Regions from separate parts of the Homo sapiens genome. Here region 1 is linked to region 2. Evidence: fine-mapped expression QTL. A gene starts in region 2. The other region holds a variant in brackets. All regions are shown on one strand. Distances are between the middles of the regions.

Evidence for each region.
Region 1: its variant is fine-mapped to the expression of TANK-AS1 in testis (GTEx, PIP 0.95).

What each region holds. Positions count from the first base shown.
Region 1 is chr2:161,200,658-161,215,453 of GRCh38, forward strand. It overlaps TANK (TRAF family member associated NFKB activator), which reads left to right. Exons shown (of 8, transcript NM_001199135.3): 3 at 2,830-2,938; 4 at 4,018-4,136. Among named protein-coding and RNA genes, the nearest start is that of LINC01806, 37 kb to the right of the region's middle. The variant C/G (reference allele first, on the strand shown) is at 4,397.
Region 2 is chr2:161,153,161-161,168,861 of GRCh38, forward strand. It overlaps TANK-AS1 (TANK antisense RNA 1), which reads right to left and starts at 7,130. Exons shown (of 3, transcript NR_187173.1): 1 at 6,972-7,130; 2 at 6,005-6,076. It overlaps TANK (TRAF family member associated NFKB activator), which reads left to right and starts at 7,268. Exons shown (of 8, transcript NM_001199135.3): 1 at 7,268-7,326. RefSeq lists enhancers at 6,978-7,741, 11,162-11,331, 13,553-13,602, 13,613-14,002, 13,913-14,082 and 1 more and a cis regulatory region at 13,998.

The DNA of each region.
Region 1 (14,796 bases), 47 kb after region 2:
AAACTTAGTTTCCCTTTGTCGTATTTACCTACTGACCTTGTTTCTGTTTTTAGTGTTTCTAGAGAAATATAAGCAAAAGCATTCCTCCATTCCTTCAGATCATTTCTGAAAGCATATCTGTTCCTCTGATATTTCTTTTTTTTTTTTTAAGTGAAAGCAAGTTTATTAAGAAAGTAAAGGAATAAAAGAATGGCTACTCCAGAGGCAGAGCAGCAGCATGGGTTGCTCAACTCTGATATTTCTTTAACAAGTTAATTAGTTTGTTTATTCAACTAATATTTACTGAGCATCCTAATATGTGCCAGGCACTCTGTAATACTCTGGAGATATCAGGAGGAAATACTCTCTACCCTTGAGGAGTTCAGTCTAGAGGGAAATCAGACATTAGACAATTAGACTAGAATATTATAACTGCTAAATACAAGTATGTGAAAAGTGTAGGAGGAAAACATGGACTCTTGCTGTTCTGTTTCCCTTACTATACTTCCAGAGTGTTGGTTTTTAAAATTATTGTAGACTTTGCTCGACCTTTATAATACTTTATTAAGTAGCTTAAGAAGTAGTTAAAACTTCAATTTGAAATAGCCATTGATCCATTAATTTTTCTTAGCTATTGAATACATTTTCAGGATTATTTATTTATTGTAATATCTTATATGCAGATGTGCTAAAGTATGTTTTTTAAGCCAGAGAATAGAAGATAAAAATTAACTGGCAGAAGCTTTCTGAGTTGGTTTCAAAAGAAAATATATGGTTTCTTCATTAAGGTGGGAAAAAAAGACATAGAGACTTAAATAACATAGGCATTTATTCTGCGCCTGTCTCTAACTTGCTAAGTTTTTTGGACTGGTTACTTAATCTCTGGACAGTATAATGTATATACCTATCAAAATAAAGTGAAAAAAATAGGTACTTATTGATTGATGTTTGTGAAGAACTTTGAGTTCTTGGAGAAAGCTTTAATTAGCGCAGAAATATATAGAGAAGACTGTAACTTGTTTGCTGATTCTTCAGCCCTGGTGGTGCTCTGTAGCCCAAGTAAATCTAAGGTATTTAGAATTTGCTGTAGATTTTTGGATCCTTCATTCAGTCAGCTTACCACACTGTTTCTAGGGGGTTGGGTGTGAATTTATACAGGAATAAGATGTCTTATCCTGGGAAGCCAGGCCCTAGACTAGACTTGGGTATCAGTGATCAGTTCTGAGACGTATTCATTGGACATGCACTTCAGGTAGACCTACATGATTCATTCTTCTGTTCACAATAATAAAATGTAATTGGAATCCGTATTTCCTTTTTTAATTTTTCAGTGAACATATACTGAACATCTCCTATGTATAAGTTACTTAATCCATATGAATTCTGTGGGGAATGTGAAACTATGTAAGACTGCCTTTAGGCAATGTGCAAAGACAATGTACCACATGGGTTGCTTATCAGCTTTGTCAGTTATTCATATTTGGAGTGTATTACTTATAAAAGTTCACCTTTCATTTGGGAAAATGTAGTATTTAGCTCTAATTTCTTTTTTTTTTTTTTTTTTTTTTTTTGAGACAGAGTCTGGATCTGTTGCCCAGGCTGGAGTGCAGTGGTGTGATCTTGGCTCACTGCAAGCTCCGCCTCCCGGGTTCACATCATTCTCCTGCCTCAGCCTCCCAAGTAGCTGGGACTACAGGTGCCTGCCACCACGCCTGGCTAATTTTTTGTATTTTTAGTGGAGATGGGGTTTCACTGTGTTAACCAGGATGGTCTCAATCTCCTGACCTCGTGATCCACCTACCTCAGCCTCCCAAGCTTTAATTTCTTAAGCTAATTTATATTTGCTAATCTATGAACAGCTATGTAATTTATTAAAATTTTTAAGTTTATTGGTCTCTGAAAATAATAGAGCTTCACTAATTTTGAACTTTAAGAATCAGTTTAAAGTGAAATATCTAGTATCTACTGAAGATCATTCTGAGATTATTAGAACTTCATTTTCATTTTATATTTCAAGGAATTTGCAACTTAGTCATTATTTATTTATCCCTCCAGGGATAGAAATTGGTTAAAAAAAGAGTTCTCTGCTATTGTTTGGTGATACGCTTTTAAGACTGTACTAATTTGGTAATTGTGATACAACAGTTTCAAATTTGCTTGAATGTTTGCAGCATCTGTATTCCTCAGTACAAACTTGTGTCTTTTTTCATTGCTTTATTCTCACAGTCACTGCAATAACATAGCAAAATTAATGGATTAACAATATAAGGGAAACTGGCATTTAAGACACCAAAGGTCAACTATATTCTCTTAATTTCTTAAAACTTAGTGGAGAAGTTTCTGGTCAGTATAATTTTATAATTTGCATTTGTCCCTTTGATTTGTATCAACACTTCCTTAGTGTTTGTGTACTCTAAAAATAAATTTAGAAGTGTGTTTATTTGAAAGACACAAAATCTTAATTTTTTAAGTTAGTATGTATTTTTAAAGAATCACTTTAATATAGCATCTGTTGTATCATTTGTGCTTTTTTTTTTCCATTAAGGAATAAATGCTAAATTACAGTTTTGATCCTTACTGAAGGATCAGGAAATCATAGATTGAATCCTTGACTGAAATGTCTTTAAATAAGTTAATCTTTAAAACTTCTGCGGTGCTTTAAGTGTCTTGAATCACTGATGTTTGTAACAATTACAAGTACATTCCTGGAGCCAGTTTGTATCTCATAAATCACAATACCTGCAAAATGACAATGTGGGCAACTCATATCTATTTATATTATCAATGGATGGTAAATATATGTTCATGTCTATCAGTGAATATCAGGCTAACTGGTTTTTATGTCAGCAGACTGAGAACTATGAGCAGAGAATACGTGAACAACAGGAACAGCTGTCACTTCAACAGACTATTATTGACAAGCTAAAATCTCAGTTACTTCTTGTGAATTCCACTCAAGGTATGTTCATGTTAATTTTTTATGTATTTCTAGAACCTCTTGGTGAAAAGAAAGGTGTAAGTTGAGTTTTTCTATTTTATTCCTTCGTTGTTTCTCAATAGTTTTGATATTATAACTGTGGTACAGTTATATGTTATGTTTATTTAAATGAACACTTGCAGGATATGGGAAAGTGGACTTTCACATATACTATACTATATGGTAGAACTCTAAGTTTATAAAACTTCCTAAAAAGCAATTTGCCAGTAAATAGCAGCAAAAGCTTTTGAAAACATCTATGCCTTTTGAACCAAAAACTCAAGTCCTAAGACTATATCATAAGAAAATATTTGTTCAGGTACTCAAAAATATATATGCGAGGATGTGTATCACAGTATAATGTCTAATCATGGAAAGCTAGAAACAAATATTCAGTAGTTACACTGATCTATATGAATAGCTATGTAGCCAAGAAAAGTGATGATAATAGGTATTAACTTGTAAGAATATGTGGACGATATATAGCAAAATGAACAAAGCAGGATACATAAATAAGTGTTTTTTTCATTTATGCAGAAAAAGGTGATTCTTGTGTGAAGTTATATGTATAGGAAAAGAAGAATTCTGATAGAATATATAAACCAAAATATTAACTGGAATAATTCACAGGTGATAAAAATTTGGGTAGCATTTACTTTTTATTCTTTTTGGCTGTCTGCATTTTCTAATTTTCCCATAATAAGCATGGAGTCATAATACAAATAATTATCTTAAATAAGAAACGCATACCTGAAAATGTGAATATAAAAGTTGAATTGTTGCTGACAGATGCAAAGAGCATATTTCTAGTTTTCTAAATTCTGCATATTTTACATACTGCTGGCTTTTGGAGAGCAGGGGTTTTGTGTGTTTGTTTAGTGGGAAGGAAAAAATATAAATGGACAACTTGTCAAAGTAACTATTACCTAAAGAATTTTCTAAAACTCCTACCTTAAAATGTATTCTCTTTATGGTTTTGAGTTTGTATTATTTTTTGCTTTTTCAGGTGGTACCAAAAATAAGGGTTTTCTGCTAATGTCCAAGAGGTTTTTGTCTTGCAGATAACAATTATGGCTGTGTTCCTCTGCTTGAAGACAGTGAAACAAGAAAGAATAATTTGACTCTTGATCAGCCACAAGATAAAGTGATTTCAGGAATAGCAAGAGAAAAACTACCAAAGGTAGACATTGCTTCTGCAGAAAGCAGCATTTAAATGCTGATGCGTGACATAGCTTCCTCATTTTATTTTTCTGAAGTGATCTGCTGGAATTCCAAACAGAAGTTCCATATATACAAATATGTGGCTTAAATATTTCTAAATAGAAGAACTATTTTCAAGTAAAATAAAGGCTGAGGTTTTGTATTTCCTACTGACCGTTTTTCTACATCACAAGCATTTCAACAAAGAAAACATTTAACAAAGAAATAGGGCTGGACACA[C/G]TGACTCACTCCTGTAATTCAAACACTTTGGGAGGCCAAGGAGGGAGGATCACTTGAGCTCAGCAGTTTGAGACCAGCCTGGGCAACATAGGGGGATCCCTATCTCTATAAAAAATGAAAAAATTAGCCACGCAGAATGGCACACGCCTGCAGTCCCAGTTACTCAGTAGGAGGATTGTTTGGGCCTAAGAAGTCAAGGCTGCTGCAGTGACCCATGATCATGACACTGCATTCCAGTTTGGGTAACAGAGTGAGACCCTATCTCTAAATAAATAAATAAATGAATTAATGAATGAATGCCACATACATATGTACATATATGTGTGTGTGTGGTGTGTGTGTGTATATATATAAACAATGAAATAAAAGATTAAAATCAGGTAAATAATAAGACACAGATTAGATAATAGCTTTCTAGCTTTTTCTTCAATAGTCTGTGCTTAGTTTAAAAGAAAAATACACCCAACTAGCTTAAGCAAGACTCTATTGAAGTAATACAGAAAGAAATAGTACATATCTGCAAGGAGACATATACAAGGACGTTCATGCCATGGGTTAGAAACAACCTAAATATCCACCAATAATAGAATAGTCCATCTTTAGAAACTCTTTAGAAAAATTAAAATATACTAAATATATATTAATTTGCCTAAATTTCAATAGCAATGTTGAGTAAAGATGGAAATTACAAAATGATAAAATGGGAATACTTTATGTAGTTTGTTGTTGTTGTTGGTTTTGTTTTGTTTTGTTTTTGGATTTTTTTTGGAAATGAAGTCTTGCTCTGTCACCCAGGCTGGAGTGCAGTGGTGCAATCTCTGCTCACTGCAACCTCCACCTCCTGGGTTCAAGCAATTCTACAGGCGCATGCTGCCATGCGTGGCTAATTAGGATACTTTATGTAGTTTTTAAAACATAACATTAATGTTTGTGAAAACACAAATATGTAATAAAAGTATAAAAACCTGTACAGGAAGGGCACACATCTTCTTTAGAAAAACGATCACCTCTAGAATTGGGGAGAAAAGAGACTGTGATATCTGAAAAAGGAATAATGAGGGCTTCAGCAGTTATATCTGCAACTTTTTTTTTTAATAGAAGAGAGCCAAGCAAGTATGCAAAATGTTAACACTTGTTAACTCAGTAGTATATGTATGTATATTATATTGTTCTCCATGTTTTCATAAGTCATTGAAATTTTATAAGTTTGAAAAGGATATTTTTAATGAGATGAGTTGGCTTTTAGTGGGACGATACATATTTTGAATAAAATACGAACTCCTAGCAAATAAGGTTTCTTAACATCAACAAGAACAATTAAATCAAGAGTGCTATATTTATTTCTTTCCTTCTAAATAAAGTAGGAGATTTTCACTTTGTTAGGGTTATTCAGTTACTGATTGCATAACTAAGACTATCTTACTATTTAACATCAAATCTGAGAAATCCAATTTTGAGAGCTTTTTTCTATAAATAAAAATTTTAGAATAAGAAGTTCTCTTGGTACCCCTTAGTACATATATTTTTATTTTAAACCATTCTTTGAGTCATTCAGTTTTCTTCACCCCCATTCGAATTTTCATTTATCTAAAAATGCTGATAAACACAGAAACCATGGCAATGAAATATACTAGGTTTATTTTGCAAAAGAGGAAATTGAGAAACAATGATTCTGACTTTTTGGAATGCAATTTTTTTACTAGGCCTATTGTAGTACATTATAAAATTGTTGAATTACTATACTGACATAAATTTAGTGCTTAAATAAACAATATTTCTAATCTTCCTCTTTCAATGTCTTCCAAATGCCATTACTTAACTGCAAATTTAATAATAATTTATAGCATTCCTTTGAAAGTAATAGAATATCTCCAGTTTAAAGTATGTAGAAGGTAGTTTTGAAAATAAAACCTTGGTTAGAACAAAAGGGATGATGTGAAAAGTTCTAAGATATAGTAATAGTTTTGTTTTTTTTAATTTGGATAATTTGTTATTTATGCAAGTTTTAGAGTTTATTTTCAGTCAATAAGTATCAAAAGCAGACCTTCAATGGAAATCTTTTTAAAAATTATATTTGTTTAAATTCTGTAAGCTAAGTATTTTATCTGTGAAATATATATTTGGATACCTGGGATGAAATTAAGTTTAAGTAACAGAAATCATTTCAGAGATAGCCTGTGTGCAAAGAGTGAATAATATTACATCAATTATAACTATATTTTTGGGCAGACGGTAAGAGGAAAAGCTCCAAGTAAGGAATAAACCTAACTTCAGCGAGTTCTCTTAATTATCTTTACTAATAGGGGAAAGGTTTATGTTTTAGCCACATTTTTATACTTTGAATAGTTCATCAACTCAATTTTCTTTGTAACCATTTAATAAAAATAAAAATTAACTGTCTTGCAGTTCAGCTTTCTCTTTTTTTATGTATCTCTAGCCAAAGTGCTAATGAGCACTAAACGTATAAGGGATTAAAGAAAAGAGAAAATATATTGTAAAAGAATGGATAAATTAGATTTATTGAATATTTGAGAGTTGGCTGTGTGCTTAGTGTAAAAAATTAGGCCTATGTTAGAAAAAATACTGGCCCATCAAGCAATGGAAATTAAAATATGTTCCATTGGCCTATGTGTTGATCTATACTTAGTGAGTTATAATTCACCTTTAGCTAATACAGGTGAAACCTTTCCTAAAGAACTCTGAATATATGGTTATATTCAAGCTTCTTCCACAATGAAAAAAATCCATGTCTGTTGCAGTTTTTTAAAAGTATGCACCCACATGGATGAGAACTGGAAGGCATTATAGAGAAATGGTTAAGGTGATGGTATGATTCTTTTTTATTCTATTTTTAATATACTTTAATGGTCTTCTGCAAAACTAACCTATTTCTAGAAATCACATTCCCAATCAATTGGCCTAGCTTCTATAATGAATTAGTAAGTTAATAGAAATGCTTTGAACCAGTAACAGAAGGAAGCCACTACGAGCCACCCACAGTGCTTTCCTCCTTCTGTTTGGTGGGTGGTTTGAGGATTTGTTTTCTTTAGACAATTTGTTTTGTTTAGGATTTTGTTTTGTCAGGATGTTTGAGAAGGGAAAGACTTGTGGACATTTTGGCAAATAGCCACTCTGGCTGCCTTGGAAAAAAGAGACACAAAGTAGAGGCAAGAGGGATATTTGAAGGGGAAAGAGGCCCTTTTAGAAAATTTTACTTAAGAAACATGAAATTTATAGTTCAGTCTCTATTCATGTTATTCCTACACAAAAAGAATGCAAAAATCCTTTGACTTCTAAAGGGACAGAAAGAGGTAAAGACAAAGCCTCTATCATTAGATGACCCTTAGTACTCTGCTTGAGACAGTAGGGAAGGAAATACTCAGTTTAATGGAAAACCTTAGTTTTGTCTTTTGTACACCACAGTAATTTGCACAGTCCTTTGCATTATCTATCATATTATTCCAGACTTACCCCAAAACTTAGGGCTTAGAACGACAAATTTACCTGAGTTTCTATGGGTCAGAAATTCACCCAGTGACTTACCTGGGTGGCCCTGACTCAGGGTCTCTTATGTTGAAGTCAGGATGTGGACAAGGACTGCAGTCATCCGAAGGCTTAACTGGTTGGAGGATCCACTTCCAAGATGAGTCACTCACATGACTGTTGGCAGGAGGCCTTTCCATATGAGCCTCTCTGCACAAACTGATAGCTAACTTCACTCAAAGTAAGGGATCTGAGAGAGAGAAAGGTGCCCTCTGTGACGTAGTCTCAAAGTCACATTCCTTCACTTCCACTTAATTTTGTTCATTAGAAGCAAGTCACTAAGTAGTGGGGCAAGAAATTAAGCTGCACCCCTTGAAGGGAAAAGTATCTAAGTTTCATAGATATATTTTAAAAGCAACACAGGTATTGTAGATTGTGGTGTACAGAAGAGGATGTGAAAGATCAAGAGACAAGGGGGCTGATACTTAATTTACCTTATGACAAATATTGATGAAACGTAAGGGAACTTAATATTCACTTAATAGTGAATTAAATTCCTGAATTATGTGATTATTAATCCTAAAGGGAAAAAATATCATAGCCTGTCATCTGAAGAACAATTTCAAAAATTCTAATATGAATATACTTTCCAGAGGAGAATAATAGCAATGCTTAGAGAACTAAGAAATTGTTGCATATTACTAATTCTTTTTTATAATGTTAAAAACTGAAAATGCAGATAGGAAATCAGATAACAAAAATGCACACAATTATTCTTGACAAAGACTATTCATCTCTTGTTTACAGAACACCATTTTCAGACATAGTAACTTATGTCCATGTTAGCAGTTACTATTTAAATAACAAGTTTTGTATTTGTGTAACAAATATAAAGACATTCTATAAAAATACAAAACTATAAATTGTCAGTTTAATTCACTTTTTTAAAAACCAGGATTGTAATGTACTGTGTCACTTATATAATCTCAGAAATGAGATTTTTATAATTTGCTTCTGGGAAATAGTTTGGTTGCCAAACTAAATACTATCTTGAGTGTCTAGGTTTTGACAGAAATTGTTTGCCCTCATCTTTCTATGCTACTTTTTGTTCCTGTGGAGAATTATACAAAATTCTCCGGTGGTTTGATGCAAGAAAATATGTAGAAAGCAATAATATAGAAGACAAAAAATTTGGTGATATTGGTAAATTATTTTTCTTCATTTATCCAGTAATTCTGAATTCATGATGTATACTTAACACTGCCAACCACTGGAGAGCAAAGAGATGTTGTCCCTGTCTTCTGGCTTAAAGTCTTGATTTAATAATTAACATTATTGAATGTTGAAAAGTTATTTCAGATTCTAGGATCCAAAATATGAAGTGAACATGGTATGAGTTCACTAATTAAATAGAGTTTATGTGTTCTCATGTCTATATATTTCTAATTTGTTCTTTAAACATGTCTTTATTTTTCATCTGAGTTAATCAAAAACTCAAGTAAATGACGAGTGCAGTTACTGAAAGATGTCAGTTAAACAGTTTGCAGATTTCGAATATAGCTATCATTGTGATTAGATCAGCAGATATGGTGGCTTTGAGGAACAAGAAAGATTTTTTAGGTTTAGAATAGTATAAACAGTGATATAGCTGTGGAGCTGGCAATTGCAAGCAGTAAGATGTGCTGTACCTGACAACTTCAAGTAAATATAGAAGCTCTGACATATTTGAAGAAAGCTGTTGTCTAAAAAGTCATTTGTCAATCACTTACACAAGAAGTAGTTATTGAACTCCTATTTGCCAAGCCTTGCTAGTCATTAACAGAAATACAAAAAACAAAACACAGCAATAGCAATAGTATTGTAATAGACAACATCTATCCCCTTTAAGGATATAGTCTGGTTGGGGAAATGACAATATGGAGACCTACAGCAATTAGCAAGCATTATAAAATAATGTAAAGTCCTAATTATATAACAAAATGAAACCCCGTCTCTACTAAAAATACAAAAATTAGCCGGGCGTGGTGGCAGGCACCTGTAATCCCAGCCACTTGAGAGGCTGAAGCAGGAGAATTGCTTGAACCCGGGAGGCGGAGGTTGCAGTGAGCTGAGATCACGCCACTGCACTCCAGCCTAGGTGACAAGAGTGAAACTCCGTCTAAAAAAAAAAAAAAAAAAGAAATTCTAACTATAATTTTATGGCACAGATAAAACATTTAGGACCTTAATTTAAAAATTAAAATTCTCAGTGAGCTTAAGATAGGCTTGATCAAGGGCCCAAAGTTTAAGTTCAAATACAGAAAAGAAGACAAGTTCTTACTTGCCTTTATCTTGGTTATGTGTGCATAGATAAGTAAAGTTAAATTTTCTACAAGACTTTGATGGAAAAAGGATAATTTCTAGACAAGAGCCAGAATTATTCTAGGTCACTTGGGAGAGAATATTATGTATGTAAACTGAAAGCTAAAACTGAGGGTTTTGAATGAGCCATTTCATTTACCATAACCATTTTTAGTTGACATAATCATGGCTTCAGAGGAGAAAGTGCTTTCTACCTTTTTCTTAACTTTATTCTATAGACAGTCCTTCAGTGAGCGGCATTTACGCATGGTCTGCTTCTTCAATTATGTATAGCAGTTTTGGCAGGCAGTACATGAACTTGAACTCTGTTTTGCTTTCTGATCTTCTGTAGCTAATAAAATCCTAATCTCACAGGTCTAGGTCTTAGATGGCATTCCCATCCTTACACTGTTCATATCTTATATACACTGGACTTCAAGTGCAGTGCCCACTTAGGGATCTTCGTCTGAGTTTTGGGCCCCTGTAGCTTCTCTCAACACTCCAGACACTTTCTGTTGCAAGTCCCTTAATCCACATTTGTTTGTTAAGTTGCTGTATGTTGTCCAGGTACCTGGTTTTATATTCATTGTAAAAGCTTTAAAATGGTTTATAGGTAAATGATAAATATGTTTTTCATCATTTGAACAAAAGCTAAAAATTAGGCCGTTAGTCAACATATTTAGCTACTAAGTGATTTCTATGGAAAAGCCAAATCTCATTTACATCATCTAAACACATAGCACCTCTTCTAAAAGAGGAACTTGAAATAAATGTAATTGCATGTGTTTGTTACTCAACTTTTTAAAAATTTGCCCCTGAATTCCTTTAATGTTTAATCTTTTCTATCTTTTATCATACAGAAATGGTGATTATGCACACTGTACAATGGCACAGGCCAATGTAGGCTGGGGCTTAGAGAACTGGAGAAAAACGTGTTTGTGTGTAGTACCTCAGGTACTCCTTGCCTTGCAGTCCAAAGCAAATGTACCGCTTCTCCTGGTTTTCTTTCTAGAAACTGCATTATATATACCCTATTTTTATATATAATGCTTCTGTATTACTCCTCTGGAGACTAGCCTTTTTTATAGACTTTCTGGTAGAATGTTAATTAGAAAGGAAAATAACTATCTTCAACCAATTTATTCATTAAAAGTTCAGTTTTTTCCAAAGAGTCATAATACATAAACTTTTTTTTTTTTTTTGAGACAGGGTCTCATTCTGTCACCCATACTGGGGTGCAGTGACACCATCTCGGCTCACTGCAACCTCCACCTCCCAGGCTCAAGTGAATCTCCTGCCTCAGCCTCCCGAATAGCTGGGATTACATGCACACACCACCACACCTGGCTAATTTTTGTATTTTTAGTAGAGACGGGGTTTCACTATGTTGGCCAGGCTAGTCTCAAATGCCTGACCTGAAATGATCCACCTGCCTCGGCCTCCCATAGTGCTAGGATTACAGGTGTGTGCCACTGTGCCTGGCTGATACACAAACTCTTAAGAAAACAAATATTGATATCCAAAACATTTTAATAATTACATTGAAATTTTCTATTGCAGAAACTGTGTTTCCAATCTAAATTATTAATTAATCCTAACCCTTTCCTGCTCTGGGTTTGTGTTTTTGAATTCAGTACATCATCTTACAGTTTTTGCTTTTGTTAAAATACTGGAAATAATTTTGAGGAAGAAAAGAAAATAAGAAGTGATATGTCACCTTCTAAATTGTCTTTCCTAACTTAGAAGCAAATTCGAATGTCTCTAGTATGGCTTTTCTCTCCTTATTTCCCCTATCATCCCTTTTCTCACACTTCTCTTTATTTAAAACTTGTCTTCAAAGCACACAGAATAGAGTCGATAAGAGTCTATCCAGCCCTGATTTCTCTTGGCCAAGGAATGAAAGGCTGTTCTCTAAACCTTGATAGGTAAGGAATAGCCCCCTGTCCACCTCCATCTTAGTCTGTATTGCTGTAAAGGAATACCTGAGGCTGGGGATTTATAAAGAAAAAAGGTTTATTTGGCTCATGATTTTGATATCTGTAAAAGTTCAAGATTGGACATTGACATCTGGCAAGGGCCACAGGCTGCTTCCACTCATGGCCGAAGGCAAAGAGGAGCCAGCATTGCAAAGATCCCATGATGAGAGAGGAAGCAAGAGAGAGAGGGGAGGTGGCAGACTCTTTTTAACAACCAGTTTTCTCAGGGGCTAAAAGAGTAAGAACTCACTCACCTGCCATCCTTACCCCCACAGCCCCCAGGATTTCTCTATTCATGAGGGATCTGCCCCCATGACCCAGACCCCTCCCATTAGGCCCCACCTCCAACATTGGGGATCAAATTTTAAAATCAGAGTTGGAGGCGACAAGTATCCAAACTATAGCACCCACAAACCATCTAGTTTATCTTATTATTATAACCTGTCATCCTAAAAGTTCTCAAAATCTGGCTGGGCGCAGTGGCTCACGCCTGTAATCTCAACATTTTGGGAGGCCAAGGTGGGTGGATCACTTGAGGTCAGGAGTTTGAGACCAACCTGGCCAACGTGATGAAACCCTGTCTCTACTAAGAATACAAAAATTAGCCAGGCATGATGGTGGGTGCTTGTAATCCCAGCTACTCTGGAGGCTGAGGCAGGAGAATCGCTTGAACCTAGGAGATGGAGGTTGCATGAGCCAAGATCACACCACTGCACTCCAGCCTGGGCAAGCGTGAGACTTTGTCTCAAAAAAAAAAAAAAAAGAAAATTTCTCTAAATCTGTTTTGAAGGTTTTTTTTTTTTTCAGTGTTATGAAATGCTTCTACATTCAACCTGCTGTTATTTTTTTTTTTTTTGGTTGAATTGTATGATGAAAATTCAGCCTCAAATAGATATTGTATTTGAAAAGGGGAAGAGTATTTTAATAGCTTTTTTAGCGATTGTGGATAGTCTTTGATACTGCACTAAAACTTGGTAGTGTCTTAAAATGTTAGCTGCAATATGGAATCTGAAAGCGTATCAATGAACTTTTCTGCTACATTAAAAGCTGTTGGTCTATCTTGTACTTTGAGTATGTCTTTTACTAATGTATGATTCTGTAACATCATGAATCAATCATTTGGAAAATATTGGTTCACTAAGTTATGTAGATCTTGCAAATGTTGACCTATTATATAATATTTTTAAATCACATTTAACATCATCACTGATTGCATCAGAAAAATCTTTCAAGTATTGGGCATCTGTCAAGCTTACTGTGACAGGTACAGGTCTTCCAAAATTTTAATTTTCACTTGAAAGCTCAAATTTTATCATTGGCAACAAATCTTGTCTGTTGCTTTCCTTAACATGACAGGCTAACTTCATTTGCTTTTGAGAAAATGTCTGAATAACCATAGCTTGTGTGTCAGTCATTCTTTCAAGCAAAAATGGCATTCCATTAGAAAAGTAACCAGTTTACTTGCAACTCAAATAGTTGCACAAGTACTTTTCCCCAAGACAATAATTGTACTTCAGTATGCAGCAGAAGTCCTTTTGTGTATACTTCCCATTTTGTCACACAAAATATTAAAAATATGTTGAGATCAAGTTTCAATAAAAGTAATCACTTTTACTGCCTTATTAAGGACATTCTTAGTTGAAACTGCCTTTTTTTGCTGGTTTTTTTTTTTTAACTGAGTGTGTGACATTAAAGAATACAGTGACAACAGTTTGATATGGCCTTAGTCATACTCGGGCACCAGCAGTTTTATTCATTGTTTTTGCATCATCAGTCTAAATGCCAACACAGTAAAAAATGCAAATATTAATAATATCTTAATTGTGACAATAGTTGATTTCAATTATGTCAGGCTCTGGGATTTCATTTTATTCTACTTACAAGCTAATAAGTTAGTTACTGTTTCATGGGTGGGTACTGGAGGAAAACAGAAAAGTGAATCAGAGAAAAAGGACTTTATTATTTACAGTAAAGTTAGTAGCGAAGAACATCTTATTTTCATTGGTCCTGCCTAGGAGGTAACACAGACACAGATGATGCTTATACATGCAATGGTTACATTAAAGGAGAGGCATATTGAGCTTGGGGAACCCACCATTTTATAGCAGGCAGTAAGCATGCCTGCTCTTTGTCCAAGAGGGAGACATTACCTAGTCTTTCAAATTTGCTCTGCAAACACAAGCCTAAGAAAAGGCTCCGGTAAAGAACAGTGAGATTCTTGTATTCCTGACATGAACAGCAAAAATGTGCCAGGATGCTCAGGGGCCATGGCAGATTACCTCTCCCAACAGTGGATCCCTTGAAAGGCTCTTGGGACCTTTAAGGATCCTGGACCATATTTTGAGAACCACTGGTTTAACCAGATTATAATTTCCTGTTAGAAAAAAATCATATTGCCTTTTTCTTAGTAAGTTACTTTTCATCCTCCTGAAAAAATGTCATGTTCTAAGAATATTCCAGCATCTCCTCAGGAACCTTTATTTGTACATGGAGGTCCTAATGCTTCCTCATCAGTTCTTTTCACATACATTGGATAATCAATTGTCTTATATCTTCATACTTTAAATCGTGATGCTTGTAAATTAATCTATATTAAGTCTA
Region 2 (15,701 bases):
GAATTACTATTTGGTTCTGTTTTATAATTTATATCATGTTTTTATATTCTCCTTTTGTTCATAAATCATTTTCCTGATTTCTTTTAGTTCTTTGTCCATGGTTTTCTTTAGTTCTTCGGGCATATTTAAGGCAACTGATTGAAAGTCTTTTTCTATTAAGTCCAATATAGAGGCCTTCTCAGTATGAACTTTTAAAGACATTTTAAGTGATAATTATGACTTTTTATTTAAATTAAAAATCAGGCTGGGTGTGATCCCTATTCACACCTGTAATCCCAGCACTTTGGGAAGCAGAGGCAGATGGATCTCTTGAGCTCAGGAGTTTAATACCAGCCTGGGCAACATGGTGAAACCCTGTCTCTACAAAAAATACAAAAATTAGCCAGGCATGATGGTGCACGTCTGTAGTCCCAGCTACTCAGGAGCATAAGGTGGTAGAATCACATGAGCCCAGGAAGTCAAGGCTGCAATGAGCCAAGATCCTGCCCTGCACTCCAGCCTGGGTGACAACAGTGAGGCCCTGTCTCAAAAAAAAAAAAAAAAAAAAAAAATCAACTGCATGTAGAACCACCTACTAAGTTACAGGAATTTTCTATATTACCCAATATTTACTGCAGTCCTCCTGTAGGCCAGATCTTGTTCATACATTATTTTGTTGGACAAGTACACTCGACCTTTGACAGGAAAAGAAACTGAGGCACAGGATTAGTAAAGTCATATGATTAGTAAATGGCAATACCAACATATGAACGAGGCAACTTTAACACAGAACTCTCACTTACAATCATCATGCTTTAGCTTCTCTCAGCTGTAGTTTGCCTTCGTGGGGGCAATGATAACCTAGGACTCTGCCTAGTGAGTATAAGTTTCTCTAATATCAGTCATAATGGCCATCCTAAGCTTAAAAACATTCAAATATGTATCTTGAAATTTCAAGCATAATGCATGTCATAAAGAGGAAAGGACAGGGTAAAATAGGAGCCCACAGCTAAGCCCACAGTCTTAACCTAGAAAGGAAATCAAGTGTGGCCTAGCTTAGAATCAGATCATTCAGTAGAGGACTCAACAGACCAGGTAAAATATGAGGAAAACATGTTCTAGGCTGAGGAAAGCAGCAAATACCTGAAAAGGACAAAAGAGTGATCACTTAAGGTATTAAAAGAAGCCCAAAATCACCAGGAAGAAGCAGCAGGACATAAGTCTGGAGAGTTAGGAAGATGCCTTATTCCAGGATTAAGATTTTGGATTTTATTCTAAAGGTGAGGGGAAGACATTTAATAGTTGTAGGTGGTAAAGAAACATAACAACATAGAATCTGACAAGGGAGAAAGTGAGGCAAACAATTAGGAGGTTAGCATTGAAACTATGAGTTGATGGTGGCTTGAACAACGGGTAGGAATGGAGATAGATAGTAGCAATGGGGACATAGAGTGTAAGCATGCAAGAAATACTGCAGAGGAGTACTCACATGATGTACCTGATTGGGTGACTGATTGAATGTTGGGAATTAAGATATTTAAATCTTTATTATGTGGACAATGTTTTAATTTCTTTCTTCCTCTATTAACATAAAAATTAAGCATACACTTTTTTTTTTTTTTTGAGACAGAGTCTCACTCTGTTGCCCAGGCTGGAGTACAGTGGTGCCATCTCAGGTCACTGCAACCTCCGCCTCCCAGGTGCAAATGATTCTTGTGCCTCAGCTTCCTGAGTAGCTGGGATTACAGACGTGTACCACAACACCTGGCTAATTTTTGTACTTTTAGTAGAGATGAATTTTCTCCATGTTGGCCAGGCTGGTCTCGAACTCCTGGCCTCAAGTGATCTGCCTGCCTTGGCCTCTCAAAGTGATGGGATTACAGGTGTGAGCTACAATGTGCAGCCAAAAACAAGCGTACACTTTTAAATTCTACTTGTAGTTATTTATCTTCATATTAAAAAAACTAAAATGATACATCTTCAATTATTAGAATGAGATCCTGTAATTTTCTTATTTCTATATATAGATTAGAAAATGAGTAAAATAGCAGAACACATTTACTTCCTGCCACCTCTCTCCCACCCACTTGCATATTTGTTGCTGTAATCAGAAAGTTGTGACCATATTATTATTATTAAATTATTTATTAGGTAATAATTTATATCTTATGTGTCAAAAATTACATTTTTCCATTGCTTTGTAGTTGCAACATGTTTTTAATTTATGTTTAAATTATTTCAAATGTTTCCTAATATTTATTTTATATCAAAATTTCACCTTTCTTGAGTTTTTAATTTTGACTCCTTCTCGAATAAGGGAAGCATATCTTCAATTGTTTCAGAAAATGGGTGGTATGATGTTTGAACCTTGAGGTATCTGAGAATGTCTTTGTTTTCCTTTTCTTGAATAAATGATAACTTGAGTAGGCAGACACTATAGGTCAAATCTTTCCCAGGCAACTGTAGATGTTATTCTATTCAGCTTTTGAAGTTTACTGCTGAAGACAAGTTTTTCTTCCTTTGCAATTAATTTTTTTTCCACCTGGATTCTTGTCGAACTTTTTCCATAACTTAGATACCAGAAGCCTTCCTTCACCCTCTCAAGGCTGGATGATGGACTTTCCAATGTGTTTTCAGAGTACCATATATTACCCCTAATGTAAAAATCATAATACCACATTGTATAGTAATTGCCTGATTCTTGTATGTATGTCACCCAGTATAGACACCAAGTTCTTTAAAGGTAGGACAGTGTCTTAGTGATCTTTCTATCCCTAATTCTTAGCACATAGCAAATATTCCCAAAATATTCACTGATTAAATTAATGACTTGATAGGGCATTTAATATTGAAATTTTTAACAAGATAGGTCATTAATATATTTCAAAACACATTGAGTCCTTTTCATTTTTACAAAGTATTGTATTGGTTCAAAGTATTACTTCAGATAGCTTCTGATATATCTGTGGTTGCCGTCTCTGTTCTATTTACCCCAATTTCTTCTTCAGGAAGAAGTTGGGGCATAATCTTTCTACCATTTCCTTTAATGGTTGTCACCTATTTGTACTTTCCAGTCATATTTTGGAAGAGTTTTTCAAGCTTTTACTCTAATCATTGATTTATTATTCTGCAATACTGATTCCATCTTTGATTATGTCCAAATTATATGTGAATTTTGCCATTGCATGTTGTTCTGTGTCCTTACAGACTTAACTTATCCAACTTTGGTTTTATTTCACCTTGTCTCTAGTTCCCTCCTTATCTTAGTCTAATAGCTTATCATGTATTTCATCTCTTTTTGCATAGAAAATACAAAGCAGATTCTCTCCATATACTTCTGCTTCTGGTAAATAATTTTCCAAAGTATTCACTTTCTTTGTATTTTGAAGACTCTCTTTCAGACAGCATAATCTTTTCAAAGGGATGCTTTCTCTTGAATTACTCGTTCCAAGCCTTGTGTCAACCTTACTACCTGAATGTGTGGATTTTGGTTCTTGGCTCTTCTCATTATCTGTCTGATGCTATTAAGTTCTTCAGCATAGATGTTGAACTGGAAGACATATAGACATGCACAGTCAACAGCTAACTTTTTGGTTTGAAGCTGACATTTATCAACTTTGTCACTGCGGGTGTTGGGCTGAGGTGAGATTCCTTACCTTTAATAGCTAGTTATTTTACTATAAAGAGAAGAATTCCTGGTTAATCAGAAACAATGATTTGTCTTTTTCTTGATAAGAACCATATATGAAAAAGTAAACCCCCAGAGAAACAAACACCCAGTTCTGTCTGCCCAACCCCTTTCATTATTAGTTTCCTAAGCTTGGACACAGAGCATTACACCTATCCACTCCCTTTGGGTTATTGCTGGTATTCTCTAGGCCGTAGCTCCAAAATGGGTCATAGAGTGGAGAAACTAATGGGAGAGATTAGGGCAAAGAGGTGTAAAATACTTCTTAGCCATCACACATAGTAGTGGAATTACTAGTAGGGGCCGTGAGGCAGGTAGCTTCCTTACTATCCTTCCATACCAACACCTTTGATTGCCTTCCAACAAAAAAGTACATGTCCATTTCAGCTTCACAGTTCTTGCAATAAGTCCAGTATCCTATCAAATTCTGGAACTAGGGTGCTTGTCAACAGGGTTATAGCTGCTCTTATGGTACTTTTCTGTGAGTTAGAAAAAGCACCTCTCTGAGAAGACACAGGCTGAAGGAGGCAAGGCTTTGCAACTGAGCACAGCCTGCTCAACCATACACAGTGGCCCTGGTTGTCAGTCTGCCTTCCAAGGCCATTGTGAGTTCTCATGTTTTTCTGATTTTTCATAGCCATTTTAGTTGGAGAGTCTGCAATATAATCAGCCAGTCCAGATGTCATCGTAAATCAGAAGTCAACCAGATTCCATTAATAGTGATATTGCACATCAAAGATTTGACTGAGAACATAACTGACATTCCAAGTCATAGTAACTGTTTATATTGCCAGGTTTCCTTGTCCTTAGGTTTATATTCAGAAGTCTCAATAAATTATTAAGCAGTTTTAAAACTAGGATTCAAAATATTTTTGAGACAGAGTCTCTCTCTGTTGCCCAGGCTGGAGTGCAGTGGCGTGATCTTGGCTCACTGAAATTTCTGCCTTCCGGGTTCAAGTGATCCTCCTGCCTCAGCCTCCCATATAGCTGGGATTACAGGTGTGCACCACCAAACCTGGCTAATTTTTGTATTTTCAGCAGAAACGGGTTTTCACCATGTTGGCCAGGCTGGTCTCAAACTCCTGACCTCAAGTGATCAGCCCGCCTTGGCCTCCCGAAGTGCTGGGATTACAGGCGTGAGCCACTGCACCCGTCCAGGTTCCAAAATATCTTTTAAAGGCCTGCAATTCCCTCATTTTCTTTTAATAATAATTCATTAATTAATATTATTAAATAGAGACGTGGTCTCACTATGTTGCCCAGGCTGGTCTGAAACTCCTGTGCTCAAGTGATCCTCTGCCCTTGGCCTCCCAAAGTGTTAGGATTATATGTGTGAGCACCACACCTGGTCAGTTCCCCATTTTCATGCCACCATACCCAACCTCCAAAGCCACATCACTGCTCACTAACTTGAGGTATATAATAATATGAGTGAAGGAAAATTGGAATAAAATTATGTCATTATTTTAAAAGATTATTCCTCAAATAAATGTCAACTCAATTTCTAACCTTTGTAAAACATACTGTATGTGAATTCTTAAAAAATCATCATTATAGGAAAAGGAAAATGTTTGATGCCATTTTAGCATTGATTACAAAATAATTCTACCAGCATTTATGCATATTTCACATACAGGGGAATTATGCAGCCACTTCTCTTCAAGACTACAACATCATGGAAGTGGAAAGAGAAAAATACGCATTTAAGAAATGTGTATATCTAGCTATTTCCTTATTCAAAGTTTTTAGCACCTCCATATTTCAAAATGCCTATGCATTCAGCTTTAGACTCTGAGTATATTACTAAATTCCACTATTTCAATCAGAAATCTTCAAATCAGCTTATTTAATTTGCTCAAGCAGTGCTGAATAAACTGGACTTCATCAAAATTAAGAATTTCTGCTTTGCAATAGATATTGTCAAGAGAGTAAAAAGACAAGCCACAGACAAGGAGAAAATTTTTTGCAAAAGACATATCTGATAAAGGACTTATCAAAAATACAAAGAACACTTAAAACTCAACATTTGGAAAACAACCTGATTAAAAAATGGGCCAAAGGCCTTTACCTCCCCAAAGAAGTTAACCAGATGGTAAATAAATAGCCATATGAAAAGATCCTCCACGTCATATGTCATCAGGGAAATGCAAATTAAAACAACAATAAAATATGACACACATCTATTAGAATGGCCAAAATCCAGAACACTTACAACACCAAATGCTGGCAAGGATTTGGAGCAACAGGAACTCTTATTCATTCCTGGTGGGAATGCAAAATGGTAGCCACTTTGGAAGACAATTTGGCAATTGCTTACAAAACTAAACATTCTCTTACCTTATGATCCAGCAATCATACTACTTGGTATTTATCCAAAGGAGATGAAAACTTATGTCCGCACAAAAAAACCTGCACACAGATATTTATAACAGCTTTTTTTCATCACACTGGGGTGAGGGATGTTGATAATGGGGAAGGGCTATGCTTGTGTCGGGGCAGAAAGTATATGGAAAATCTCTGGACATTCCTTTCCATTTTGCTGTGAATCTAAAACTGCCCTCAAAAAAAGTTTAAATAATTTTTTTAAAGCAGTACTGTATTGTGATGTTTAACTCAATTACTTATTACAAGAAAACTATTCAACTGGTCAAAACGTTATATATAAGAAGTTTCTGTTTGTTAAAAACATTGTTTCAAATATATTTAGGCTTTGACTTTTAAAAGTATACAGCAACATTCAAGATAACTAGACAGAATGCACTGCAACTTGGCAGGTTTTTAAATCCTTGGACTTACTGGCCTAAGGAAAGATGTGTAAACATCCATGATTCAGAAATACAGGGAGAAATTGGGGCAGCCAGACCTCATCCTCTTGCCCTAAAGGGAAAAGATATCTTTCTTGCGGTATCTAAGATATGAATCTTAGATAATATTCATGCATGGCTAGGAATTGGAATAATGGGAAAGTCTTAATTCATGGGAAATTTTCTAATAAAGTTCCACCTCCATTTCCAGCCATTCCTCTTTAACAAATACATTTAGTGAAAAATACTACCAGTTGGGGAGAAACCAAATGGGTATGTGTATATGTAGTGTTTCTCAGAGTGTGGACTTTAACCACGTTTAATTACATAAATTTACGAGGATCTGTTGAAAATGCAGGTTCCTGGGCTTCACTCCAGTTGCTCTGAAATGAAAGCTGTAGGAGTCGGTTGGTGAAACTACATTTTGTTTCTCAGGTGATTCTTGTGTACTCTAACTCATATATAGGGTGATGTTATTTATTTACTGGTTATTTATTTACCGGTTATTTATCGTTTGGCAAAAAAATCCAGCAAAGACTCACAAGTGACCTTTACACTTGACATAGGATTCTCTTCCGCTGCTGACGCTTTTTTTTTCTAAGAGGCGGGGACTTGGCTGGGCAGGGCTGGGGGAGGGCGCTAGGCGGGGCGGGCAGGGGCGGGGCAGAAGAGCCCTGGGCTGGGTGGGGCAGGGCGGAAGGGCCCTGGCCTTGTTGGGTGGAGGTGAAGAGTTAATGGCTCCGCGCGCAGGCACTGCCCTCTGAACTGGAACAAAATGCAACTTCCGGTTGGAGTCACTCGGCCAGGCGCCGGCGACCTGAGGGGAGAGGGAACGCAGCTGAAAGCGTGAACTGTGTGAGTAAGAAACTTTGTGAATTGGTGTGTCCGAATCCGTCAAGCACGACGTCGGAGAATTTGTATGCGTGAGCGAGAGGGACGCGCTGACAGTAGGGGCGCCGCAGGGAGAGAAGCCGAGGAGCAGCGGAGACAACCAATTTGCAGTTTGGGGAGGGATTTTGTGCGGGAGAAACCACGCGAGTCCTTCCCCCGGAGCGGACTCCTTGTGGGTTGGTTTCCGGGCCCGCGATGTCAGCATAGCATCGTCGGCCTCTGCCCCAACGGCTTCAAGGGAGGGACTCGTCCCGGCTGCTTTGCCCGGGAAATGGGGGTGGAAGGGCCTGCGGTGTCGAGGTGAGCAGTGGACCCTCCAGGAACATTCCCGACTTCCCTTCGGGAGAGAGACTGCCTCCTAGAATCAAGTAGTATCGTGGTTACTCTTTCGAAAACTTAATTGGTTCTTTCTGTTGTTTTCCCAAGGTGGTTGCACAATTCCCCTCTGCCTTCCTGTGGGGTGTCATCATAGCCTGGTCAATGAGAAGTTGGGTAACTTCCCAGAGGGTCACGGAGGGAGTGGGTGGCCAAGGCAGGAAGAACAGAAGCCAACCCCGCCCACAGTGGGAACCCAGGCGTTAGGTAGAGTCCTCACGCCGGTGTAAACTGACTAGCAACGAGTTACAGGCAAAAAAGCTGTGCTTTTCTAGAAGTAGAAAGGGGGAGGATAATCAAAGAAGAGCTGTGCCTTTATTGTTATGCTATAACGAGCAAAAGTAAAGCAGCCTTGCTATGTAAAGTGGTGTTTATCTCACCTCACAGGAGATGCTTTTGACAAGTTATAATAAGGGAGAGATGGTAGTAAAGGAAGTGAAGAAGCGACGTGAAATTGAAGGAAAAGAAAATGACCTGCCTTCTTACCGCGGTTGGAATACACACCCAAACGAGAGGTAGCAGAGAAGCAAGCAGTGCATTCTGTTAAAAATTATTGTGTCCTCATTTGAGAGAGGAGGGATCCTCAAATAATACAACTATGTGCAAAGCAGGAAGTGAAATCCTTCTCAGTCCTCTCCCCAGTTGTAATCCAAGCCTTCCACATCTTTCCTGTATGTGCATAACCATGTTATTTTGCTTTCTTATGAAAATGAGATTATGCATACTGTTCGATAATCTGTTTCAGATTAAATATATATATATGGTGAAAGTCTTGCCATATGTAGCTCTATTTTATTGTAATGTTGGCGTGGTACTGCATTGTGTAGATGTACCAAATTATAGTTAACTGTCACTTACTATGTCCTGTCCGTATATATTGCCCAGTATTCTTCAAAATTATCTGTTTCTCATTAGACTACAGATTTCATTAATCCTTTGTGAAATATATGGCAAATATTTTCAAGAATTATCAATGCTTTGGTTTAAAATGCCCAGGCTTTTTATCTCAGGTAAGAAGGTAGTCCCCACTCAAAAATTCTTAAAATCTTCTCCTATATTGCCTGTTAATTCTCTTTTTATGATTTACTCATTAAAACATCTGAAAATGATTTTTGTATGCTAAGATAAGGATTTAATTTTTTTCTTTGTTTTTATGACTAGGCAGCCATTTTTTCCTGAAATCATTTGTTGAAATCATTTCTCTCCCAACTGACTAGAAATACCTCCTTAATATAGTAAATTCTCAAGTGTACATGCATCTTTTCTTTAGACTCATCTGTTGCTTTGATCTTTTTGTCTCTTCCTTTAAAAATACCAATCTGCTTTGATATTACGTTTTCTAGTAATTCATAGGACAAGTCCCTCTTCATTTTTCCTTTTCAAAATTTTCTTGAATATAATTGCATTATCTTTGAGATAAAATTTAACATAAACTGTTCATGCTTCATTAAAATACTCTTTTTGGGATTTAACCATTATATTTTCTTATATTTTGTGACTGGTATGTAGATGAGTGTTTATGTATCTGGCCAACTTTCTAAATTTATTAATTTTAATAAATTGTTTCACTTGAATTTTCTAGGAAAACAATCATCTAATTATAATTCATCTTATCTCTTTCTTTCTTTGCTTTAGTGAATTGCTGGCTTCCCCAGAATAGTGGTAAATAAAACAGTGATTCTGGCCATCCTTTATCTTGTTTCTTAGTTTGGGGATGTTTTTATTATGTCATCATTAAATATGAAGTTACTATTAATATCTAATAAATTATATTTATCAGGGAAGTTTCCTTTAATATTTCTAGCTCATTGTGATTTTTGCAGAGAACTGTTTGGATTGCATCCAAAGTCATTTTTGCAACTGGGGATGGGGAGTGTCTATTGTATTAGATAGCACTTTGAGAACAATTTTAAATAATAGATATTGGATGTTCATTTGGTGTGTATATTCATTACTTCTTAACATTTTTATCAGGAATGGAAGTTGGATTTTGTCAAATGGCTTTTTGACATCTATCATAACCTTTCATAGGTACTTTTCATCTTTGACCTAACAGGATAGTGAATTACTTTAGTATATTTGCAGTTTGTGAACCAATCTTACGCTTGGTCATGGTGTAATATTTAAGTATATATTGGTTCCTTTGGTAGCATTTTTATTTAAAATCAATGATTGAGATTCATTTTATACTCACCTTTTTCTGTTATTTTTGCTAGGTTTTGGTATCAAGGTTATGCTGGTTCCTAAAAAGAACTGGGCAGAGTTCCTCTTCCTCCGCTCTGATGTAGTTTAAATAGCCTAAGAACTCTGCTCTTTGAAGATCTGAAAGAATTCACTCATGAAACCATGTGGGTCTGGGAGTTCATTGTTCTTAAGACAGCAACAATACTCAGCAAAATGGTTCAGAACAAACAAAAACTCCTTGGAGTAAATACAATTGAATGAAAGAGTCTGGGACACGGTAATGTCAAGAACTAAGAACAGCTGCTGTACTGATGCTGGTTATTTCCCCCCTACACACAACTTTTTTTTCATGGACAAGGAAAAATGCTGTAGGTAGGCTGAGGCTGTTAAGTAAAATGTCTTGCTATTCTTTCTCTTCTCTTCTTCAGTTATGTTACAGAAGCAAGGGTATTGCTTCTACATGGGCAAATTTGTCTATGCCCTGAAAGAAACCAAGAGTGAAACTCAACTGGGAAAGCATCAGTTTCACTTTATTGTCACTAGCTTCCCAATTTTGCCGGGAAATTTCTTAATTTAAAGGTAATAACCAAGCTGACATTTTACTGTAGCCAAATCCTACAGAGGGTTTCAAAATGAGTGGGTGAAAAAATATACAAGCTTAACATGCTTATACTTATTTAACATGAAGTGAAAATCATTAGCATAGTTCAGGTATGTGCATGGTATGTGCACGCACATGGGGCAGTGCTGTCATCTAACAGAAGCCCACCTTTTTACTTGACTAATGGTTTACTGTTAATACCTCGATAATAGTGTAATCTTTGATAGACTTTTATAAATGATTATTTCAAATGCTTTTTGATCACCTTCAAGAATATGACCTGAGACAGGTAATGTAATTTAGCAGTTTGCATCTATGAACTGTGGAGGATACCTACAGACACTGAAGCGTTACTAACAGTAGGATGCAGGCATTATGTGAATGCGTGGGTATTTTATTTCCATTTATGGGCTACTATAGCAAAAATAATTGGGGAGTTGCCCTATGATGAAAGAAGACTGCATGTTTTTTAAAACCATACCTTTGTCCAAAAGCAAATGGTAAATAAAAATAGACTGTTGACATAAAGCTTCGCTATTTCGATGCTATGCATTAGCTGATTGACTGTTACTGTTTATCCTTTTTGTTTTCTAACACCTTATAAGCATAAAATATTACTGTTTAATTGCAGTTCGTTTGTGTTCAGTTACGTAAAGCCTAGTTTTAGTTTCTATTTCCTGTAGGATTTATGCTGTGGCTGCCATTTCCCACCTGTTATCTCCTATGCTTGCTGCCATGGTTTTGAATCATAAATACAGGGAAAGAGGAGGCTATTATTTAGATATGTAACAAAAATCGCTTTATAGTTCGGAACCAAGATTATGATTATCTTCAGGAAGGGATAACAGAATATGAAATGAACTACCTTTTCAGTGAGTTGTTAATTAATTTTCAAAGTCTTTTGAACTAAGTGCAGTATTTGGTCACTGTTCAAATAAGTTGAGGGTAACTGGTACCAAGCCCTATGCAACTGAAAACAGGCTTTGGGACTTATGTAGTACATGTGTCACATTTTCCAATTCCTAATCTATAAAAGCTTTTTAAATTGTGGTAAAATTCACATAACATAAAATTTACCATCTTAACCTTTTTTTAAAGTATATGGTTCAATAATGTTAAGTGCATTCACATTGCTATGCAACCAAGAAAAACATTTTTAAAGGGACGTATTTTTCTTAAGGAAAAGAGTTTGGGAAGTAAATGATGGCAATTGTTTGTCTCATGGAAAATTTCCTGGACAGTAACTTTTTACCTTCAGAGATATATTCTCTATAAATGGTAATTATCAGTAGTAAGTTATGAGAGTAAACATTTTGAGTACTAGTGATCTATAATAGCTTTTACTTAACACCAATACTTTTTTTTTTTTTTTTTTTTTGCAAAAGGAAGGGTCTACTGAAAATAGGTTGCTAACATTGACAACAAAGTATTTTAAGTCATTGCAGTAAGGAATTACTGGAAATTGAGTAGACAAAGAAAATTAATATGAGTTCCATTTTGATGGTTACTTAGCAAGTTGAACTTATGAGAGTCTTTGAAATAGTTGCAGTATGAGAATTGTTCTATTGAACAGCGAAACAACCCAATCAGGTAATAGTTTTTCCAGAGAGTGACTTGCTATAAGGGACAGAAGTTAGAGACTTAGATTCTTTCAAAATAAAGGATTTTTTTTAATTGCTTGAAGAAGGATTTTTGGAATCAGCAAATCAACTGTTATTGTGAGAGATTTAAGTGGTTTTACTATTCACAACCATTTATTATGTGGCATTTACTGGAATGTGGTTTCATAACCTCAAGTATTTGGAATCCCAAAAGTAGAAATGCCTTTCCCTTGAGATTGTTGTTTCTCAACCTTTAAAAATCCATATTTCCTTTCTGATAAACATTAAAATCTCACAAATCCTAGAGGATTGTAATACATGTTCCTTCCCATACAGTCCTACTCCTCCTCTACACCTCACCATACTGACTACAGACTTTCTCTTCTAGTTCCCTCATCTGTGAATATTATGCAAAGTCCTTCTTTATATGATTTATGTAATAGATTTTTAATATTAACTATTTCAAAATTGTATATCCTTCCTCCCCCATCTTCAGATTCTAACATTGCCCCTAGTCAGAGGAGAGGATACCCCTTAAAGATTACTCAGTTCAGCACAGCCAACTGAGCAGTGCCATGTTTACGTTCACCTCAGAGGAGTAGAACATCACATGCCTGCTTTCCCTTTTGGTGTTATACTGTTTAGTTGTGCACTTAAACCCATAACATTTGATAAATAGTCTCAGAGAAAGAAGTATTACTGGAGAAAAAAAGGAAGTAAGGCAAAACTGAGACTCATGGGTGTGGTCTTTGACAGTGAAATCTTTTAGCTCTTGCAAGATCACATAGAAAATTTCACCAAGTTCTAACATCCAGCAAAATGGAGAACATGTACTGGGGACCTTTGGGTTTAACCAGTGAGACTGTCTTGTTTATCCTGTTGCATTTAGCCTTCCAGCTTATGGAAAAATACAAAATTCAAATTCTAACACTGCTGGATTTATGATATTTAAGGTTTCTATTATATCAGCTGCCTGGATGGAGCACAGAAACAGCGTAGTACAATATGCTATGGGTATATTCATGACCAAAGTTTACAATGTGGAAGGAGAATAGAAATGCAAGAGGTCAGTTGGGGAATTAGCTGCTTGTGTTATATAACTCCTTAAAAGTGGAAAATGATCACAAGTAAATGTGAGTAGTGACAGTTCTCTTCCATTTCCTTTCTTCAGGTAAGGAAAACACACTTAATATTTTTGAGTGTCTTTAAAGATCTTCCTAACCATCCAAAAGAGAAGATGTCTTATTTATGTGTATATGTCGTGTTGTTGACTGATTTTTTTGCTTTTTACTCCTGATGTGTTTTGTGGGTGAGAAGGCAAGCATGTAACTAAGATACAGAAAAGACCAAGATGTAGTGGGGCACAGTGGCTTGACGCCTATAATCTCAACTACTCAGAAGGCTGAGGTGGAAGGATTGCTTGAGGCGAGGAGTCCAGGCTGCAGTGGGCTATGATTGCACCGCCACACTTGCTGCACTCTACCCTTGGGGGACAGAGTGAAGCTCTGTCTCAAAAAAAAAACAAAAAACAAAACAAAAACACAGAATTTGTCTTTCATTCACTGATTCACCTCTTTATGTACTACAGTGGCAACTTTTCTGAAATAGAATATGAACTCCTCTTATTCATAGCCCAAGGGGTTGGGAAAGGCTGGTGGCTTTCTTTTCTAGGGCAAAGTGGAAGGAGTAGCAGTTATTCAAGGTGGTTTCCTTTCCCCATCCTGAAACTGCTTTAGATTTGAGTTGGTCTCTCACCACAAGTGTGAACTCTGGCAGAACATTTACCCAGAAACAGAATAGGCTCAGCAGTTGGGGAAACCCAGCAGAGGGGCCTTGCCTGCCTCCCAAATTACTCACACTTGTCTCAACCACCTACAAAAAAGTAGACCTTACTAAAGAATGACTAATCATCCTGGGGTCAAGATGGCGAAAATCCTACCTTTAAGCCTTTGATTCTCTTCAAACGTGGAATTCCAATGTATATATACATAACTGATCAAAGCTCAGATGTTCTGGTTGAACAGGCAGTTAGAGGTGGAACATGATTTGGCTCATACACTGTCAGCCTCAGTGCAGCTCCAGAGGCACCACTACTTACCCTTGATTACTACTTTCTTTATCCAGGATTGGTTGGCTGTCATTTGGCAGGATAATGGCTGCCAAAGACAACAGACTTAAGATATTGTATCTATTGTCAACCTAAAGAAATGGAGGCAAAATTAATATGGGGAATTTATTTGGGTAAAGGTTGACGACAGCTGCCTTGGACACACTTCCAGGTTGCCTTGGGGGGTTGCTCCATTCGGCCTTTGTTGCAACCAGGTTTTTGTTTGTTTGTTTGTTTGTTTTTGTTTTTTGAGATGGAGTCTCTCTCTGTCACCCAGGCTGGAGTGCAGTGGCGCGATCTTGTCTCACTGCAAGCTCCGCTTCCTGGGTTCACTCCATTCTTCTGCCTCAGCCTCCCAAGTAGCTGGGACTACAAATGCCCGCCACCACGACCGGCTAATTTTTTTGTATTTTTTAGTAGAGACAGGGTTTCACCGTGTTAGCCAGGATGGTCTCGATCTCCTGACCTTGTGATACGCTCGCCTCGGCCTCCCAGAGTGCTGGGATTACAAGTGTGAGCCACCGTGCCTGGCCGCAACCAGGTTTTTAAAGGCAAAAGAGAGCAAAGAATGGGCTGATACTAAGTTATTTGATAGGAATTCTCACTGGTTTACAGAAATAACATTGATTAGTGATTATACATTGTTGAACTATAGGGCATGAGTTTTGGTATCTAACGTATGGCATTTTATGGCTACTTGGCATCACATAGTAGGTAGCTTCAAGAGGGTCATTTAGTTCACGGGAGAGTGAGGTGTGACTGCTGTCACACACTTACATTTCAGTGCCTCTCTGGGCCTGATAATTAAAATGGGTTTGCACTCCTCACATTAAAAGTTTTTATTTCTCACTATGAAATAAGGAGGGAAGTTCATTTTAAAAGGAGTGGCAGAATAAGGAGAATTGGAGAACCAGTACAGAAGATTCAAAACCCAGATAGTAGAAGTCCCAGAAAGGAATACAAAAGGAAAGAAATTGCCCCAAAAAATTTTCAAGAAAATTTCCAAGAACTGAAGGAGGAATTTCCAGATTGAAAGGGCCCACCAAACACCTATTGCTATGATATAGTCCATGGCCAAGTATGGTCCTGAAATTTCAGAATCCTAGGGACAAAAAGAAAAAAAATCCTAATTGTTTTCAAAGAGAAAAAAATCGGTTTAAGGCCAGGCACAGTGGCTTATGCCTATAATCCAAGCACTTTGGGAGGCCGAGGCAGGCAGATCACCTGAGGCTGGGAGTTCAAGACCATCCTGGCTAACATGGTGAAACCCCGTCTCTACTAAAAATACAAAAATTAGCTGGGTGTGGTGGCGTGCGCCTGTAATCCCAGCTACTGGGGAGGCTGAGGCACAAGAATCGCTTGAATCCCGGAGGTGGAGGTTGCAATGAGCTGAGATCACACCATTGCACTCCAGCCTCGAGCAACAGAGTGAGAATTGTACAAGATCAGGAATCAAAATGGATCTGATCCT